2 separate regions of the Homo sapiens genome follow, and region 2 is linked to region 1. The links come from fine-mapping of genetic effects on plasma protein levels. Region 1 holds a variant in brackets. A gene starts in the other region. All regions are shown on their reverse strands.

Evidence for each region. A credible set is the group of variants that fine-mapping cannot tell apart. PIP is the posterior inclusion probability: the model's chance that the variant is causal. The UK Biobank Pharma Proteomics Project read protein levels with antibody pairs (Olink). The fine-mapping took linkage between variants from a reference panel, not from the people measured, so its PIPs are less certain.
Region 2: SPINK2 starts here. The variant in region 1 is the best candidate, but not a certain one, in a credible set for the plasma level of the SPINK2 protein (UK Biobank, PIP 0.54).

What each region holds. Positions count from the first base shown.
Region 1 is chr7:151,243,874-151,249,239 of GRCh38, reverse strand. It overlaps SMARCD3 (SWI/SNF related BAF chromatin remodeling complex subunit D3), which reads left to right and starts at 546. Exons shown (of 13, transcript NM_001003801.2): 1 at 546-755; 2 at 3,569-3,780. The coding sequence starts at 678. RefSeq lists silencers at 2,023-2,317, 3,392-3,471, 3,492-3,791 and enhancers at 2,305-2,878, 2,879-3,453, 3,454-4,027, 4,028-4,602. The variant C/T (reference allele first, on the strand shown) is at 2,024.
Region 2 is chr4:56,820,785-56,826,109 of GRCh38, reverse strand. SPINK2 (serine peptidase inhibitor Kazal type 2) reads left to right here and starts at 4,409. Exons shown (of 4, transcript NM_001271718.2): 1 at 4,409-4,652. The coding sequence starts at 4,448. RefSeq lists a silencer at 4,308-4,567.

The DNA.
Region 1 (5,366 bases):
CCGCCGCCGGCCCCGGGCAGGCGCGAGGCCTCGCGGGCCGGGCTCCCCCGGTTCCTGCCAGCGAATGTTTCCCTGCTCGGCCTGCCAGGTCTCTGGGGAAAGGGCCTCAGAAATGCAGCAGGAGCCGCTGGGGGAAAAGTTGGAACTGACTGTTCCCTGCCTGGCGCGGCCGGCGAATTCCCTGACGGAGAAACTATTTGTGGCGAGAGCCGGTGGCCGGCGACCCCCCGCCGCCTCCCCTGGCGTCCCCTCCCCGCGCCGCCTCCCGCGGGCCTCGGCGGCTTCGGGCTGCAGCACTGCTGCCCAGCGCCCGCGGCCGGGCTGGTCGGCGCGCCTCGCCGCTTATCTGCGCTGTTTGGACAGCGGGCTTGGAAAGGCAGGCGGCCCCGTCCCCGCCGAGTCAACAGGCAGACCCCGGGCCGCCGGACTATTTCTGTCTTATCAGTGCAGGAATGCGGCAGCCGCGGCGGCGGCGGCGGCGGCGGGCGGGCGGCGGCGGCGTGGGCCGTGGGCCGTCAGGGCAGCCCTGAAGGGGCCCCCTCCCCACTCCGCTCGAGTAGAAGTGTGAGAGAGCCCAGCAGGACTCAGAGGGGAGAGTTGGAGGAAAAAAAAAGGCAGAAAAGGGAAAGAAAGAGGAAGAGAGAGAGAGAGTGAGAGGAGCCGCTGAGCCCACCCCGATGGCCGCGGACGAAGTTGCCGGAGGGGCGCGCAAAGCCACGAAAAGCAAACTTTTTGAGTTTCTGGTCCATGGGGTGGTGAGTGGGGGAAAGTTAGCGGGGGAGGGCAAGCGAGCTGGCTCGGGCTGAATGGAGGGCTGATCGGGAGGGGCCGGGAGGGCGCTCCCGCTCTCCCACCCCTCTAGTGGGGGGCGTCATGGCCCACGGCCCGGCCGCGGGACTGTGCTGGCGCCCTGGCACCCGAACACGTCGCCAGGCGGCCGGCCGGGTCTGACGCGAGGCGGGGAAGGGAGGCGTTTGCATGGCTCTTGTCAGGGGCGGGGGTGGGACTTGGGGACTCTACCCCCCAAGTAGGGGGTCCTCGCTGTAGCCGACAGGTTGACTTTCGTTCTTTTCCTTGTGGGCCCAGGTGTTGCCCCTGCCCTGGGGGTGGGGGTGGGGGATGGGGACATGGCAGAGGCTGGGCTGGGCTGTCTGTTCATCCGTTGGGACAGTGTCACTGCTTGTGTCTCCGGAGCAAGGAGCAGGTGACCCTGGAGGCACTGTAGCGGGAAGCTCGCAGGCTGAGCCACCTCTGCATCCCAGCGGGAGGGCTCTGGAGCTTCTGCCTTAGGGTGGGGGAGAGGACCGCTCTAGGGACTTAGCCCAAGTTAGGGGCTCTGAGGGTCTCCTTGGCGGACTCAGCCACCAGAAGCTGATGTCCTTAACTCCTCGAACATGTGAAGGAAGGGGCTGGAGTTGGGGACATGAGGCCTAGAGACCGAAGGGACAGGGGAGCACTGTCCTGCCACAGGCAGGCTGTGAAGGCACGTGGGAGCCCGGGAGGCTGGAGCTGAGTCAGTAGGGCCCGGCTGGGAGGGGTATGGAGGGGTGGGGAATGGGAGAAGCAGGGGCTGCGACTCTTGGGATGGGTGAGGGAGTGGAGGCCCTGTGTAGAGGAAGCTGTCGGGTTTACTATGGCCAAATTTGGTTGTGACCCCAAGGAAGACACCCTCTCAGTAAGGCCAGAGTCCCTAGGATTTTGGCCTTTCATGGGGATGGGGCTGGTGGCGGGCACAGCTCTCTGGGGGCTCTGAAAGCCTCCCTCTCAGGGCCTCTTCAGCAGATGGGCCAGTATCCCTGGCCTTGATAACTGGGGAGAGCAGCTGACAGGAAGAGGGGGACTCCCTGGAGTGGCCTGTCCTCCAGCCCCAGGGACCCCTGGGGGTAACTTCCCAAGGTGTCCATGTCAGCTAGCTGAGTTACCAGTCCTAACCTGGCTGCTGGTGGGAGCCCCTTTAAAAAGGCCCATCTAGTGGGGAGAGGCTGTACACGTGGACTGTTTTTTTAATCTGGTCAACTTACAG[C/T]TTCAGTTCTTGAGTGGCTGTGAGCCCCAGTGCCCCACCTAGCTGGTGGCCAGGCCTGGGCTCCATTCTGGGCTGCTACCCTGGAGGCCTGAGTGACAGGGTCAGGTGGGGTGAGGGAAGCAGACACATGGACAGGCAGGTTTCACTGCAGGAGAGATAGGCAGAGACAGCTGCTGACCGAGGGTGGGAGGACATTAGGGTTAGACACAGAGCCTGGAGGACCAGGAGGGAGAGGTAGCAGTTGGAAGGAAAACAGCAAGCCCAAGGGGGCCCCTCCTCATGCCTGGGGGTGAGGTGGGTGGTGTGTCCATGTTAACAGTGCCAGGGTCTGCATCCCCTGCCCTCTGATCTTCTTCCTGCTTTCGTGGTCCCAGTCCCCATCCCACCCCGCTCTTTCTGTTTCACAGCCCCTGAAACTCTCTCTGGCCCTCCCCATCTCCCTTCTGGAGTCTGGACAAGTGGGGTTTGGAACACTTCGCTCGATGCATTTGCATCTCATTTACACCCCATCTGACCACCCAGGGGTAGTGGCAAGGGAGGAGGAGCCGCCTCCTCTCAGTCTCCACAGCCCCCATGAACCCTGACTGCTGACCTCACTGGGGTGGGGATGGGAAGAGGAGGAGGTGGCTGCTGACCTGGGCAGACAGGAAGGGAAATGTGAGTGCAAGTGTCACTGCCCTGACCCACCCCAGGCCCCCCTGGGCAGCCCACCTCTAACGCAGTTCCCCTCCTCCCAATCAGAGAATCCTGGCTGTGTCTGGGGCGCCCCAGCAGGCTGCCCTTGCCTGCCCTGCCTCCAGCCCTCACCCTGGGAGCAAATTATGGGGGCAGCTTGGTCAGCGAAGACCCTGGATGTGGGGACTTGGAGTCAGCCGAGGGGAGTGGGGTTTGGGACCCAAGGGTCAAAAGCAGGGACACAGGGAGCAGAGTGGCTGAGATGAGCTAGTGAGTACCAGGCAGAACCGCCCAAGAAGTGGAGCCTGAGAAGGAGGAGCAGGAGGAGGAGCAGAAGTCGGAGCAGGGAGCCGGGTACCGGACCTCAACCAAGCCGCAGAGAGCAAAGCCCTGGGCCCCCAGGAGGCAGCCCTTCAGGGGCTGCCTGGGCCAGGATGAGCTGTGTGACCTTGGCGAGGTCATTTTTCTCCTTGAGCCACAGTGGCCCCATCCGTCAAGTGGGGATGAAAGGACCTGCTCAGGCTGTCTTGCAGAGGAGCATGTGGATGTGAACATCTTTGAAAGGTTGAAAGGCGCCATTAATATTCATTTTTGCGGTACCTTCCGCAGCCCCGAGGCTCGCAATGCCCTGTGCGGTGCCTGGCTTCAGTTAGCTTCCTGCAGCCAGACGCCAAGCCCCTCCGCCAGAGCCGCGCAGATTCCGGCGCCCCTGCCCCTCCTACCCATCGCTCCCACCCATCGCTCAACGCTCAGGGTCACCAGCCGAGGGTCTGGTGGGGGAGGGGAGACGCCGGCTCACCGCGCCTGGAGCGGGGGGCCCTGGTCTGACCCACGGGCGCCCGTTTCTGCTTCACCCCCGCCCACCCCCAGCGCCCCGGGATGCCGTCTGGAGCCCGGATGCCCCACCAGGGGGCGCCCATGGGCCCCCCGGGCTCCCCGTACATGGGCAGCCCCGCCGTGCGACCCGGCCTGGCCCCCGCGGGCATGGAGCCCGCCCGCAAGCGAGCAGCGCCCCCGCCCGGGCAGAGCCAGGCACAGAGCCAGGGCCAGCCGGTGCCCACCGCCCCCGCGCGGAGCCGCAGGTGAGTGGGAGGCCCGGCGAGGAGGGGGCGTGCAGGGGCGGGCCCTGGGGGACCCGCAGGGACCAGGTAAGCGAGTAGCGGGGATTGGAAGGGGCGAGGAAGAATGATTAGCAGGGAGCGAGGCTTCCCGGGTCGAATGCCCTCTGGGGAGGTAGGCTTAGGGGGCACCGGCCTGATTCTTTTGTGTGCCCACGGTAGAGACAGGCTGCGGCGTCGGCAGCCGGTACCGCTTCCCTGCACGCTCCCCTCACCCTTCTCCTTGTCACCTGCTCAGTCCTTCTCTCCACCCATCAGGTTCTGGGTGATGCTTCAGTCTTTGGGGTGGGGGCGGGGCTTCCAGTGGGACTGAGGGCAGAGGTGTAGGACTGTGTTCCCCAAAGTGTGGTTCTCCGCTGAGCCTTCCTGCCGGCCCCCGGGCTGTTTCAAAGCCACTCCAGATTTTCTCAATGGGACTCTCTGACCATGGGGGTGGAGCTTGGGGATTTGCCCTGTGGGTAGGTGGTCTCTACCCAGTCCTGCTCTTAATTCTTAGGCACTCTGGCCCAGGTCTGCTCTCAAGCCACCAGGGCCAGCCCATTTCCTTGCTTTCCTCCAGCAGCTGGTGGCACCCTCAAAGCCCCTGCTGGCTCCTGGCAACAGCAGTGCCCCTCCGGGTTTCAGTATTTAGCCAAATACACATGCTTTTTTTGCACAACAGATGGGTTTCTATAAAAGGTGTAATATCAATTTTACCTCATTATTATTTTTTACACATCGGGGAAAAAATCACCACTTATAGGAATCCCATGATGAATTCTTTAGTAAAGTGCATCGTCATTTTGTACAGCAAATGGTAATTCCCTGATTTATCTTGTATAAATGGAGAGTTACACATAGATAATCTGTTTAAAACAAACCAGACCTTTAATGAAATCCGCTTGTTAGCCTTAGATTTCTGCATAGGGAGGGGGCAGTGCTTGAGAACACCACACGGGGGCAGTATGGAGCTATTCTCTGGGCTGCGTTTTCATCTCTTGACCCGCCAAGGTTTTTCTGGGGGTTTTTGGGTTAGTTAGAAGCAGCTAGTGGGTCAGAAAGAGCCCACATCCAGCTGCTACTACCCCGGGCCTAGTCAATTTGGCCTCAGCCTGAAGTCACACCCATGCACATTCTGGGCGCCTATGGCTGCAGCATGTCCCTCACCCTGTTGCCAGGTAGTCCCAGGGCATGAGTACCCCCAGCCCATCAGCGTTCTCTTCCAAGCCCAGGGTGGCTGGAAGGGGTGCAAGTCCCGCCAGCTTCACACCGTCACCTCCCGCTCCATGGATAGGAAGGAGTTCGTCTCTCTCCCTCCCTCTGAGCTTAGGCCCCTTTGGACAGGGCACCCCCTGCTTTCCAGAAAAGGTCTTCAGAACCTGGCTTCCCTCTCCTTTGTCCTCCCTCATCCCCACCTTTCCTCAAACACTTCTGCAGCTCGCATCTTTTGGCAGCACCGCCCCCACCAGCCAGTCCCTCCTGTCTAAATTTCTCTGTCCCTGAGGATGTGGCAGGGTAGAAGGGGGCTCCCAGGCCAGAGAATGGATGGGTCACTCCTGTGTCCTGAGAGA
Region 2 (5,325 bases), not on the chromosome of region 1:
TGGACCTTATTCTCCTTATCACTATCAGCATTTTGGGCAAAGCCATTCAGCAAGTCTCTAGGAAGTTCCAAACTTTCCCACATTTTCCTGTCTTCTTCTGAGCCCTCCAAACTGTTCCAACTTCTGCCTGTTACCCAGTTCCAAATTCACTTCCACATTTTTGGTATCTTTTCAGCAACGCCCCACTCTCCTGGTACCAATTTACTGTATTAGTCCATTTTCATGCTGCTGATAAAGACATACATGAGACTGGGAAGAAAAAAGGGTTTAATTGGACTTACAGTTCCACATGGCTGGGGAGGCCTCACAATCATGGTGGGAGGTGAAAGGCCCTTCTTACATGGCAGGAGCAAGAGAAAAAATGAGGAGGAAGCAAAAATGGAAACTCCTGATAAACCCATCAGATCTCCTGGACTTATTCACTATCATGAGAATGGCATGGGAAAGACTGGCCCCCATGATTCAATTATCCCCCTGGGTCCCTCCCGCAACACTTGGGAAATCCGGGAGATAGAATTCAAGTTGAGATTTAAGTGGGGACACAGCCAAACCATATCACCTACCTCTACAAAAAATACAAGAATATTAGCTGGGTGTGGTGGCGGATGCTTGTATTCCTAGCTACTTGTGGGGCTGAGGTGGGAGGATCGCTTGAGCCCAGGAGGTTGAGGCTGCAGTGAGCTGAGATTGCGCCACTGTACTCCAGCCTGGGTGACACAGCAAGATCTTCTCTCAAAAAAAAAAAAAAAAAGAATACAGTTATGCCCATTCATTGAGTTATAGTCTATGTCTCCTTTTGCACTGCAATGGCAGAGTTTAGTTGTGACAAGAAGTCAATGGTATTTACTATCTGGCCCTTTACAGAAAATGTTTTTTGACCCTTGTTCTTGGCTCACAAATGCTGAGACAACATGTGAAAAGCACCATGATAGAAAATATTTCTAAGGTATAATTATCAACATTTTTTTTTTTTTTTTGAGACGGAGTCTCGCTCTGTCACCCAGGCTGAAATGCAGTGGTGTGATCATGGCTCACTGCAGCCTCCACCTCCCAGGCTCAGGTGATCCTCCCACCTCAGCCTCCTAAGTAGCTGGGACTACAGGTGCGCGCCACCACACCAGGCTAATTTTTGTATTTTTTTAGAGACAGGGTTTTGTCATGTTGCCCAGGTTGGTCTCCAACTCCTGGGCTCAAACAATCTGCCCGCCTCTGCCTCCCAAAGTGCTGGGATTACAGGCATGAGCCACCCTGCCAGTCAGTGTCAACTCTTTGAAACAAAATAACCTAAAGGCAGCTGTATCCACACACATAAATTTATAAAAAATCTATCTTGAGGGGTAAATGGCTTTTCTTTTGAAGCTGAAATTCCTACTCACACACCTCTGAGCATTGCCCCTGAGTCTGGGTCAGATTTGTGTTCCCAGAGCATCAAAGGTGTTTGTAAGCAAGTGCACATGTCATTTGGTAACAGACATCCAGCACAGTTGAGAAAAGCTTTATATATAAATTATATTTTATCAATCCTTGATAAGAATCTTCAGCAAAATGACCCATGACCATTTCATGACTGTTATTCAAAGAACTGAATGTGATGTGACTTAGAGAAGTACTAACACTCATTTCAAATTTACCCCTTGGCCTCAGACAGGATTCCAGCCAGAACTCAGCCATGTGTGGTGCCAAGTGGAGTTAAAAACTGCACAGTGTCTTCTTGTTCCAGCCTTTGAGGTTGCTAAGGTCAAGGGTGGGCATGGGAACATGCCAGTCATAAGATGATTCTCCATCAGCTCTACAACCCCCTTCTACACTCTGCTATGTGGTGCCAGGTCTCAGCAGACCTCATTTCTGCTTTTTCAGCTGGCTTCCAGAAGGTTATGCCCATAGGGTCTGTCAGGGGGACACCGGAAGGCAGGAGGAGGGAGAAGGGACTGGCTCCTGCCTGCTGGCTGTTTCTTTCAGCAGTGCCACAGCAATGACTCTTCATCACTCTGATAGAATCAGCTGGCTCCAGTCTCCAGCATTTTTTTTTTTTTTTTTGAGACAGAGTTTCACTCTGTTGCCCAGGCTGGAGTGCAGTGGTGTGCTTCGCTCACCACAACCTCCACCTCCTAGGTTCAAGAGATTCTCATGAACCTGGGATTACAGGAGTATGGCACCATGTCCAGCTAAGTTTTATATTTTTTAGTAGAGACAAGGTTTCACCATGTTGGCCAGGCTGGTCTCGAACTCCCGACCTCAAGTGACCCACCCACCTCAACCTCCCAAAGTGCTGGGATTACAGGTGTGAGCCACTGCACCTGGCTCCAGTCTTCAGCTTTTCCACACACTCTTAGAGCCACCTGCATATCCAAGCAACACCCCCTTCCCATGGGTCTGAGTCCCAGCTTTCCAGGACCTCTCCTCCAAATTTCTAGTTCTGAGAATCCCAACCTAATCCGTTTGTTCCCCTAGATCGAGGCATGATGCCTACTTCCTAAAGGCTTTATCTCTGTGTTACCTCGTTTTCCCTTTCTGCTTTTTTCAGTTATCCCTACTGGATTAGCCAATTCCTTATACTAAATTATCTCTGGTGAAATACCTAGTAAACCTTGTGTTTTCCAGACTGGACCCTTACTGATAAGGCAACATGTCACAGAATCATTTGACACACAGGCATAAGAAGCAGAAAAAAAAAAAAGTGGATCTGCTAATGCACTTTTTTTTTTTTTTGACAGAGTCTTACTCTGTCGCCCAGGCTGGAGTGCAGTGGCACCATCTCGGCTCACTGCAACCTCTGCCTCTTGGGTTTAAGCAATTCTCATGCCTCAGCCTCCCAGGTAGCTGGGACTACAGGTGCGCACCACCATGCACAGCTAATTTTTGTATTTTTAGTAGAGATGGGGTCTTGCCATGTTGGCCAGGCTGGTCTCAAACTCCTGGCCTCAAGTGATCTACTTGCCTCAGCCTCGCAAAGTGCTGGGATTACGGGCATGAACCACCGTGCCTGGCCAAATTTTTTTGACATGGTCTCATTTTGCCACTGAGGCTGGAGCGCAGTAGCTCAATCTCAGCTCAATGGCCACACCTGGCTAATTTTTGTACTTTTTTTAGAGACGGGGTTTTGCCCTGTTGCCCAGGCTCCTCTCAAACTCTTGAGCTCAAGTGATCCACCAGGCTCAGCCTCCCAAAGTGCTGGGATTAGAGGCGTGAGCCACCACGCCTGGCCTTAATGCACTAACTTGCTCAGCCTCTTTGGCAAAAATTATTTCTCACAGAAGTAATGAGTAGAACAGTAGTTACTAGAGGCTGGGAAGGATAGGGGGATAGGGAGAGGTTGGTTAAAGTATACAAAATTACAGCTAGGTAGAAAGGATAAGTGCTAGTGTTTCATAGCATTGTAGGGTGCCGACAATTAACAATAATATATTATAAAGGTCGAGCACGGTGGCTCAAGCCTGTAATCCCAGCACTTTGGGAGGCCAAGGTGGGCGGATTGCTTGAGCCCAGGAGTTTGAGAGTAGCCTGGGCAACATGGTGAGAACCCCTCTCTACAAAAAATGCAAAAATTAGCTTGGCATGGTGGCATATATCTGTGGTCCCAGCTACTTGGGAGGGAGGCTGAGGTGGGAGGATCACTGGAACCTGGGAGGTGGAGGTTGCAGTGAGCTGAGATCGTGCCACTGCACTCCAGCCTGGGTAAAAGAGCGAGACCCTGTCTGAAATTTAAATAATAATAATAATTTATTATGTATTTTCAAGTAGCTAGATGAGAGGATTTTGAATGTTCTCAACACAAAGTAATGATAAATGTTTGAGGTGATGAATATGCTAATTATCCTATTTTGATCACTACACATTGTATGTATCCAAATATCACTATGTACCCCCATAAATATGTACAATCATTATGTGTCAACTCAAATAGTTAAAAAATATATTAAAAGAGGGAAAGGCAGAACGCTTCCTGAGAGCAAGGACCTCCTTTGTCGAGGTCAGGGCTGTGTCTTCAGCAACGAAACACTATCTGGGACTTAGTACATGCTTAAGAAATAGGTGTTGATTGACAGAGCTCCCAAGAGCTCCACAAGGGTCCCCCTAGGACTGTCACAGGTTCTTGTATGTCGGAGGGAGAGGTCTTCCCCTTCGTCTCCTTGGGGGGAGGGGAAGGTGTTGGGGAACAACTGCCCCTTCCTCTATCTCCCTCGCCCCTCCTTCCCCATGGCCCCCTCCCCCGTCCTTCTACCTTTCTCCTTCCCAGCCCTTTCCGGTTCTCCCCCGACCCTTCACGGCTCCTCTTCCCGCCGCTCCTCTTCCCGCCGCCCCTCTTCCCTCGCCACCTACCGCTGCTTTTCCTCCCATTCTCGCCCCGCCCCTTCCCCCGCCCTCCCCGCGCCCCGTCGCACGAGCGCTCCCTGCGAGTGGCGCAGGTAACAGACCGCAGGGGCAAGACAGCCGGCGCGGGAGGAGGATGGCGCTGTCGGTGCTGCGCTTGGCGCTGCTGCTCCTGGCAGTTACCTTCGCAGGTAGCGCTCGGAGCGGTCCTGGCGAGCGGGGACCTCCGGAGAAAAGCGGGTTTGGGAGTCAGACCGGCGGCGGACCCTGCCCTGCTCCGGGCGGCCTCGGCGACGGTACCCGCGCGCCCGTTACTGGCGGTTCCCCAGAGGACCTGCCAGGTGGAGGAACGCGAACTGGGGGTTGTGGGGGTGGCTTTGTGGAGTCAGCCACCCTCTTTAGTTCTTGCTTGGGCTTCGCTCCCAGCTCTAAGGACACCTGCCATCTAGAGCGCTTTCTCTGTTAAAGTAGATTTTCAGGTGCCCAAGATGAGGAGTTGAGTTTTTATGTATGGTCCCAAGGGAGGAGATGTGCAGGAATGAGGAATTGTGGATGCTTACGAGAAAGGGGCTTTAGTCCAACCACACTGGACACCTCTCTTAAAATGGAGTTAAAATGCTCACATCTTATATTAAATTTTGTATTTGTTACCCCGAGTTGTAAAGGAAAATAACATCATGAACTATTAATTAAGGGTTACTTCCTTGGCCAGGTGTAGTGGCTTGGGCCGGTAGTCCCAGTTACTCCGGAGGTTGAGGCGGGAGGCTCGCTTGAGACCAGGAATTGAAGCTGCAGTGCGCTAGCGCGACTTTTATTCCATAGCTTCAAAGTCCTTTCTCAACCAACCCTAATGGGAACAGAACCAAATGTTATTTCTATGTGCTTTTGGGGAGAGGTGCCATAAAAAACTGAATATCCTTTCTGGGGGAAGTGGGATGGGGACAGTTTAAAGAAGGTAGGCATTAGAGGGGAAAATAGAAGATGTGGCCTGGATAAATCCCAAACTGGATTTTA